2 linked regions of the Homo sapiens genome follow. The protein of the gene in region 1 interacts with the protein of each later gene in a pairwise test. Each region holds a gene or a part of one and is shown in the gene's direction. Other genes may lie near its edges.

Evidence for each region.
Region 2: the proteins of GOLGA8K (region 1) and OR52E6 interact in a two-hybrid assay, tested with the Homo sapiens proteins (one large-scale study listed by BioGRID).

Annotation. Positions count from the first base shown.
Region 1 is NC_000015.10:32,399,883-32,405,462, reverse strand, and holds the start of GOLGA8K (golgin subfamily A member 8K), read left to right. Parts: upstream 1-2,170; 5' UTR 2,171-2,268; coding exon 2,269-2,316; intron 2,317-3,987; coding exon 3,988-4,107; intron 4,108-4,502; exon of another isoform or gene 4,503-5,001; coding exon 5,002-5,061; exon of another isoform or gene 5,062-5,242; coding exon 5,243-5,323; exon of another isoform or gene 5,324-5,580.
Region 2 is NC_000011.10:5,840,428-5,843,185, reverse strand, and holds OR52E6 (olfactory receptor 52E6), read left to right. Parts: upstream 1-1,288; coding exon 1,289-2,230; 3' UTR 2,231-2,258; downstream 2,259-2,758. UniProt on the Homo sapiens protein: Odorant receptor.

The DNA of each region.
Region 1 (5,580 bases):
CCGTCTCAAAAAAAAACAAAAACAAAAACAAAAAAAGAATGCATGGAGTTAGTTCATTCTTCTCGCCCCCTGGAACTTCTGATCAAAAGTCAATACCTTTGTGACCTACAAGTCTCTTTATTTGCCCTCCATTATAGACTGAGCTGTTAATAACATTTAATGAGCTCACATGGATTCACTGGCTAATAAAGAAGAATAGAGTTGAGGACAGTGCTGCCCTGTTTATGCCCAAAAATTACCCTAAACTGAAAGTTGCTTTGTGTTCCTTCACTCCCCTCTGCTGGTAAATTTTAATATAGTTCTTAATTTTTTTAAGTCAAATTGATAGAAATATCAATTGTGTTTTTAAAACTGTAAGAAAAAATAATGTTGAACATCACAAAAATGTACTCAATCTTTCCCAAAACCCATTTCTTTCCAGTTAGTTTTCATAACTGTAGGTTCTTAAAAAAAAAAAAAATGAACACTTTGGCCGGGTGCGATGGCTCATGCCTGTAATCCCAGCACTTTGGGAGGCCGAGGCGGGTGGATCACGAGGTCAGGAGATCGAGACCATCCTGACTAACATGGTGAAACCCCGTCTCTACTAAGCCAAAATACAAAAAATTAGCCAGGCGTGGTGGCGGGCGCCTGTAGTCCCAGCTACTCGGGAGGTTGAGGCAGGAGAATGTTGTGAACCCGGGAGGCGGAGCTTGCAGTGAGCCAAGATCACGCCACTGCACTCCAGCGTGGGTGACAGAGCAAGACTCCGTCTCAAAAAAAAAAAAAAAAAAAATGAACATGTCATCCATACTTCTAAGGTGTTGTAAAGATGTGTAAAGTTTTCACTTTTTGCATCATATTCACATGTGGCTATATGCCCTTTTCTCTTCAAAGTTTTCTTTATCTTGATTACTTATCAGAGGCTTGACTGTTTTATTATCTCAGTCTTTTGAAAGAATCCTCCTTCAGTTTTATTTTTTAAATCTAGTGGTTTTTCTTTTTCCTTTTTCCTTATGTCTTAATTATTTCCCCCTTTTTGTTTGTTTTGCTTTTCCCAGTTTAGTGGATCAATGTAATTTAAATTGCTTTTTAAACAAACATGTAAGGGTATACATTTTCGTTGGGTGCTGTTTGACTTTGTTGCACAAGTTTTAAAATCTATTTTTTAATAGTTTGTATTTTCTAAATTATTTTATTACAACTTTTGTTCACATTGCTCTTACTATTAATTTTTTATTTTTATTAATTAATTAATTAATTTATTTATTTATTGAGATGGAGTCTTGCTCTGTAGCCAGGCTGGAGTGCAGCGGCATGATCTTGGCTCACTGCAAGCTCCACCTCGGGGGTTCATGTCATTCTCCTGCCTCAGCCTCCCAAGTAGCTGAGACTACAGTTGCCTGCCACCACATCCGGCCTTTTTTGTATTTTTAGTAGAGATGGGATTTCACCGTGTTAGCCAGGATGGTCTCGATCTCCTGACCTCATGATCCACCCACCTTGGGCTCTCAAAGTCCTGGAATTACAGGCATGAGCCACTGCACCCGGCCCAAAAGCTTTGTGTTTTTACAGATATTAGACATGTTTCTTGTTTAAGAAAAAAAAATCTTAATGAAAACGTAGGAGAATAAAAGAAACATTTTTCCAAAAAAGAGAAATCATTGTGATTATTTTATCTTATTAGAATGTTGGATAATATAGTCTGCTTCATTAATCATCAAGCATGCTATGCATTTTCCATTTTTATAGGATCTGTATCTCAGTTAAGGTAATACTGGTAATTTTTGTACTGTAATCAAAGATGAAGAATATAGGCCAAAATCATAGACCTTGCATAGAAGCTGGATAATGAAGACAGCTATGGAGAAAAACATAGATACACACACACGGACACACATATATATAAAGTATACACACATATATTTTTTAAAGTTTTAAAGCTTTTAAAGCAAAAGCCGGCCCCTCTTCTCTTCCAGAGTGGGAGGCCTCTCCCCTCTCTTAGAGTGGGTGGGGAGAGCGGTTGCCATGGGCAGCTTTCCTTGTGAGCCACAGGTCCCTCTGGACACACTGCTTTCTGGCCACGCCCCCTTTCCTTTTCATCTTTCTCATTGACCAATGGGCTTGGAGCATTAAGGCCACGCCCCTATTCCGCATTCTACTGGGGCCCTGGTTACGCCTCCTCTGGCTCAGTCACACAGCTGCCTGGTAGGTGACTGGAGGCCTTGATCGGTTCTCATTGAGATTTTGCTGCTGTGACCCCAACCCTGCCTCCCTCCCCACCCTGCGATGGCAGAAGAAACTCAACACAACAAATTGGCTGCAGCCAAGAAAAAGGTAAAAACGCACTAGGTCATAGCCCCTCAACCCAGCCACAGATCCCCTCTGATGACAAGACCCCTGCCAGAGTCTATACGACTCCTGAGGCACACTGGACTCGTCCCCCCTACCCCGGTGCCTCTGGGCTACCCCCACCAAAGTTTTGTCAGTCAGCCCCACCCCTTCAGCAAGCAGCCCAGTCCTTGCCCTCGCCAATCACCCCAGGGTGACTTTGGGTGGGTGAGTCCTGGGGCTTCCCGCTCCATTACTGGGCCCTCATCTCCTGCCGCCCCAAGCTTGATCTCCCTGGGCTCTTTGGGCTCTCATCTCCAAGGAGCCAGGCCCCACCCTCGCCAGTCATCCCTGGGTGACTTTGGACTGGTGACTCCTGGGACTCCCTGCTGCAGACTGTGCCCTCCCCTCCTGCTGCCTCAAGGTCGACCTCCCTGGGTTCTTTGTGCTGGCGTCTCCAAGGAGCTGGGTCCCAACCCTGTGCTTCCCTCCCCCATCGTGGAGCAGCGACTTGGACATGGTGCTGACATGGTCCCTCCCCCCGACCAGGAGGAGTGGAATGTTGTGATGTCACAGTCCACCTAGTAACTGCCGTTACTGCAAGACTGGCCTTTGATCTTACGACCCAGTCCCCTAAGCGTTCTCACCCCGTTTCTGGTTCCTCTGGTCACAGCACAAATTTCCAGCTGGAAGGGGAATGGAGACTATGGGACCTAGGAGGAAGAGGTTCCAGGCTGCCTCACTCCCTTACAGATGTTGACGGTGGGAAAAGCCTACACTTCCCCCATGAACTCAAAACGTTGACAGTATCTCTGGGTGGCAATGAGAGAATGGGTTTGGTTTGGTTTTCTCCCAGGCTTCTACTTTCCAGAGAGATTTTAACATTTTTTTCTGAGTTCTCCACCTCATATTCTAATTCTCCATGGTTCTGGGACCAGACTCTCCTTCAGTCAGTGGTCTCTGAAGTGACATTTGCTCATCTTCTGTGGAATAGATCTTGGGAAACTGAACTTGACACCTTGAATCTTCCTCATATTATCTCAACCTTGGGTACTTTGAGTGCCACAGGATAAATGTGGGACATCTTTCTGAAGCATCAGTTTCCCTTGATTCTCTTGAGATCAAGAGAAAAAACATGAATGTACTTAGGGATGACAGTCACATAGGTTTCTAAGAGTATACCAGACCTCTCTCTGAAATGAGGCTTGGGTTATCCTCTTTCTGATAAATTCTGATTTAAGAGAAAGGCTGCCTTCTGCCATGAGGACACATTGATATAAGAGTTTGAGAGGTACTGGTGCACTTCTTCACACTAACAGACGTGTGAGGATGTATGACTCTAAACCACATGGCATACAGTTCCTGCCTACTTAATGTTTACTTTTCTACCTCTGCCTCTGGTTTTGGTCCCTGGCAGCTGCTGATTCTTGGCAAAACCTCAGAGCTTGGAGTCAGAAGACTGAGTTTCAAAGTTCCAGTATTGCCTTTTTCTTTTTTTTTTTTCTAGCCATGATATCAATCCTTCTCAGTCACTAAATGAGTGTGACAACACCTTGTACAGTTGTTGGTGTCATTAAATCAGATGGTGTGTAAGTGTATTTTGTAAAAACTGTAAAGGAGGATGTGGCTGTAGGGGCTGATGGTTCTCATGAGTATTACTGCTCTTCTTTCCAACAGTTAAAAGAATATTGGCAGAAAAACAGCCCTAGAGTTCCAGCAGGAGCGAACAGGAACAGGAAAACAAATGGCAGTATCCCTGAGAAAGCCACTTCTGGTGGTTGCCAGCCACCTAGGGATGTGAGTCTTGGCTGACCAGGCTTCTGGGGACAGGGGGCCCAAGGGGCAATAGAGGGTAATTCTTAAGATTGTGGATGGACTGCTGGGTACTGGTTAAGAATTCTGGCTTTAGCCGGGTGTGGTGGCCCACGCCTGTAATCCTAGCACTTTGGGAGGCCAAGGCAGGCGGATCATGAGGTCAGGAGATCGAGACCATCCTGGTTAACACGGTGAAACCCTGTCTCTACTAAAAATACAAAACATTAGCCAAGCGTGGTGGCGTGTGCCTGTAGTCCCAGCTACTCAGAAGGCTGAGGCAAGAGAATGGTGTGAACCTGGGAGGTGGAGCTTGCAGTAGCCAAGATTATGCCACTGCACTCCAGCCTGGTGACAGAGCAAGACTCTGTCTCAAAGAAAAAAAAAAAAAAAGGAATTCTGGGTTTGAATCCTGCCTCTCCATCTGCTCTGCTAGGGATATGATTTAGGGCAAGTTGCTAGACCTCATCGGGCCTCTCTTTTCACATCTGTATAATAGAGGTGTTATTGTTTCACTTCCATTTGTGAAGTTTAAATGAGATTTGTTATTGTTGTTTTTATGTTAATCCCTAGTACATGGCCTGCTGTAAACACTCAGGACACCCAGGATATGGTTTGATTTTCCTCATCCCCAGTCTCAGGGGGAAACCAGGACAATGAGAACAGCCACTTGCCATCAGGAGTCACTGAAGGGGCCCCAGGATGGGATGGTGGGGAGATAAGAACCATGAGAGAAGTTGGCACAAAGGAGTTATGGGACAAAAGGTCCAAGATAGGCAGAAAAGAAAATGTTGCCAGTTGATGGGGAAGAAAGGAAGTCAGAGGGCTCAGACACTGTGGGGGACAGAACATCTCCATGTGCACTCTCATCTCTTGTAGTCAGCAACAGGTTTCCACAGGGAAGGCCCTACATCATCTGCTACCCTGAAAGATCTGGAGGTAAGAGGCTCTGGGCGGAGGTGCAGTGACCCTTCGGGTCAACCCTCCAACCTCCTCCTCCAGGTGGGACTGGGTGCCCCTCTGCCAGCTGAGACAGCCTACACACCCCAGCCCTAATGATTGTTCTCTCTACCTCTCCCCCCACTCCTGCTCCACCTCCTCCTCTCTGCATGCACCTCAGAGCCCGTGCCAAGAACGAGCAGTAGTCCTGGATTCAAGGTCCGTAGAAATCAGTCAACTGAAGAACACCATCAAATCTCTGGTAAGAGTCCACTGGGGTCCCCTGATTCCACGCTGCCAATCCTGGGCTCCAGTTTCCCCTTGGGGCCCTGAAGAAAGGGGCTGGGGGTCCCTGGTGCCTGGGACAAATAGGGAGCTTGGGTGCCCAGGCCTCACCTGGAGGGACCCCAGAGCATGCAGCATGGCTCTTCTTTTGCTGCCCTCTTTGCCGACTCTCTCCTCTCCAGACACCCCTGCTCGAGTCCTTGCTACACACGCCCTGGGGTTGTTGCCTCTTGG
Region 2 (2,758 bases), on another chromosome or scaffold:
GGTGTATTTATCTAAATTAATCTTTTATTCCATATTTAGCTTTAAGTGCAAAATACTTTTCATTAATTATCTTCCTTTAATTTTCTTTACCCAATTTCCAAAAATGATGGATACAGTATTCTTTTTGCAAAAGAAATTGTGATGATCAAGGAGTTGTTTATTTTCTGAAACATCACATTAAAATTTTTTGCTGTCTGGTTTTCAATTTATTAACTTGATTAACATTTAAAATTGAGAACTCTTAAGTGGTATATAAAAAATATACGCTTTTCAAAGACTTGAAACCAACCCAAATGCCTGTGAATAATAGAGTGGATAAAGAAAATGTGGCACATATATACCATGGAATACTATGCACTTATAAAAAAGGATGAGTTCATGTCCTTTGCAGGGACATGGATGAAGCTGGAAACCATCATTCTCAGCAAACTATCACAAGAACAGAAAACCAAACAATGAATGTTCTTACTCATAAGTAGGGGTTGAACAATAAGAATACATGGACACAGGGAGGGGAACAACACACACTGGGGCCTGTCGGGGGTTTGGGGGCTAAGGGTGGGATAGCATTAGGAGAACAACCTAATGTAGATGACGGGCTGATGGGTGCAGCAAACCATCATGGCACGTGGATACCTGTGTAACAAACCTGCACATTCTGTACATGTATCCAAAAATTTAAAGCATAATAATAAAAAAAGAAATAAATAATAAATATTACATGTATGTGTAAATATAGGCTTTTTCTCTCTGCTCTAAAAGTAAACCCACTAGTACTCTACAATTCATGTAGAAATGCATAGATACACACAAACACACACTCAGTGCACAAATATAAACTTTATTGTTAGCAGGATCTCTAGTAAGGGATTAACAGAGATTACAGATAAAAATCAGCCTGAAAGTTAAGAAAAATGAGTGTAAAACGATCAGATTCATAGGTTCTGAAATCTTATTTTTAAAATTAGTTTCTGCATAGACTCTTCATTATAAATTTCTGTCAGGCAGATAGAGGTTTCTCCCCACTTTATTCCTCATGTGTAATAAATTCTGGTAGGAAAAGTGGCAATCAGGTGAAGCTGATTTAATTATTGATTCTGTTTCATGCTCATATGACCCTAGCAGAGTAAGAGGTATTTTACTCTTTTTCAGAAAGGAACCAAGAAGAGTACAATGCTATTTTTTATTTTACCAGGAATCAGGATAAAGTGAGAAGTGGAGCAAGAATCACTAATGGAAAGTCAATAATTGTCACTGATACACACAACAGCTTTTTGTGACAGAAAGAATGCCTATAGCTAACGACACCCAGTTCCATACTTCTTCATTCCTACTGCTGGGTATCCCAGGGCTAGAAGATGTGCACATCTGGATTGGATTCCCTTTTTTCTCTGTGTATCTTATTGCACTCCTGGGAAATGCTGCTATCTTCTTTGTGATCCAAACTGAGCAGAGTCTCCATGAGCCCATGTACTACTGCCTGGCCATGTTGGATTCCATTGACCTGAGCTTGTCTACGGCCACCATTCCCAAAATGCTGGGCATCTTCTGGTTCAATATCAAGGAAATATCTTTTGGAGGCTACCTTTCTCAGATGTTCTTCATCCATTTCTTCACTGTCATGGAGAGCATCGTATTGGTGGCCATGGCCTTTGACCGCTACATTGCCATTTGCAAACCTCTTTGGTACACCATGATCCTCACCAGCAAAATCATCAGCCTCATTGCAGGCATTGCTGTCCTGAGGAGCTTGTACATGGTCATTCCACTGGTGTTTCTCCTCTTAAGGTTGCCCTTCTGTGGACATCGTATCATCCCTCATACTTACTGTGAGCACATGGGCATTGCCCGTCTGGCCTGTGCCAGCATCAAAGTCAACATTATGTTTGGTCTTGGCAGTATTTCTCTCTTGTTATTGGATGTGCTCCTTATTATTCTCTCCCATATCAGGATCCTCTATGCTGTCTTCTGCCTGCCCTCCTGGGAAGCTCGACTCAAAGCTCTCAACACCTGTGGCTCTCACATTGGTGTTATCTTAGCCTTTTCTACACCAGCATTTTTCTCTTTCTTTACACACTGCTTTGGCCATGATATTCCCCAATATATCCACATTTTCTTGGCTAATCTATATGTGGTTGTTCCTCCCACCCTCAATCCTGTAATCTATGGGGTCAGAACCAAACATATTAGGGAGACAGTGCTGAGGATTTTCTTCAAGACAGATCACTAACCAGTTGGAGTTTGGAGGGTCTCTCTTAGCATTCATGATGAAGCAGCCACTAGGGAGGAGAGAAGAGACACCAAGGAATTTGGGTACAGAGAAAGTGAGATACCCTGAATAAAATTTAAAATAATTATGAGTGTATTGGTAGATAAATATTATTTCACAGTCACCTTCAGTGAAATGTCCCAACCACAAAATATATCCATTTGTTTGTTTTCATGTTTTTGCTGGGTTTGCTTTGTCTTTTTGTTTCTGGATAAATAGTTGTAATCTTTTAGAAAATGTGGTGTGTATATGTGTTTATGTTCATATGTTCATAGAGAGGAACTGGTAGAAGGCAATTAAATTGACCAGTATGGATTGAATCCTTGCCTGTATTAATTGTTTGAACCAGCACTTTCTATTGATAGGCAAGACTTTTTCTCCTGATGCTCTGTTCTTCCAGAAAGTCTCCTTATCCAGTTTGAGAGAGAAAGGCACATAACATATATTAATGCAGAGTGATAAATCAAAGGACAGACTTATGAATCAGGT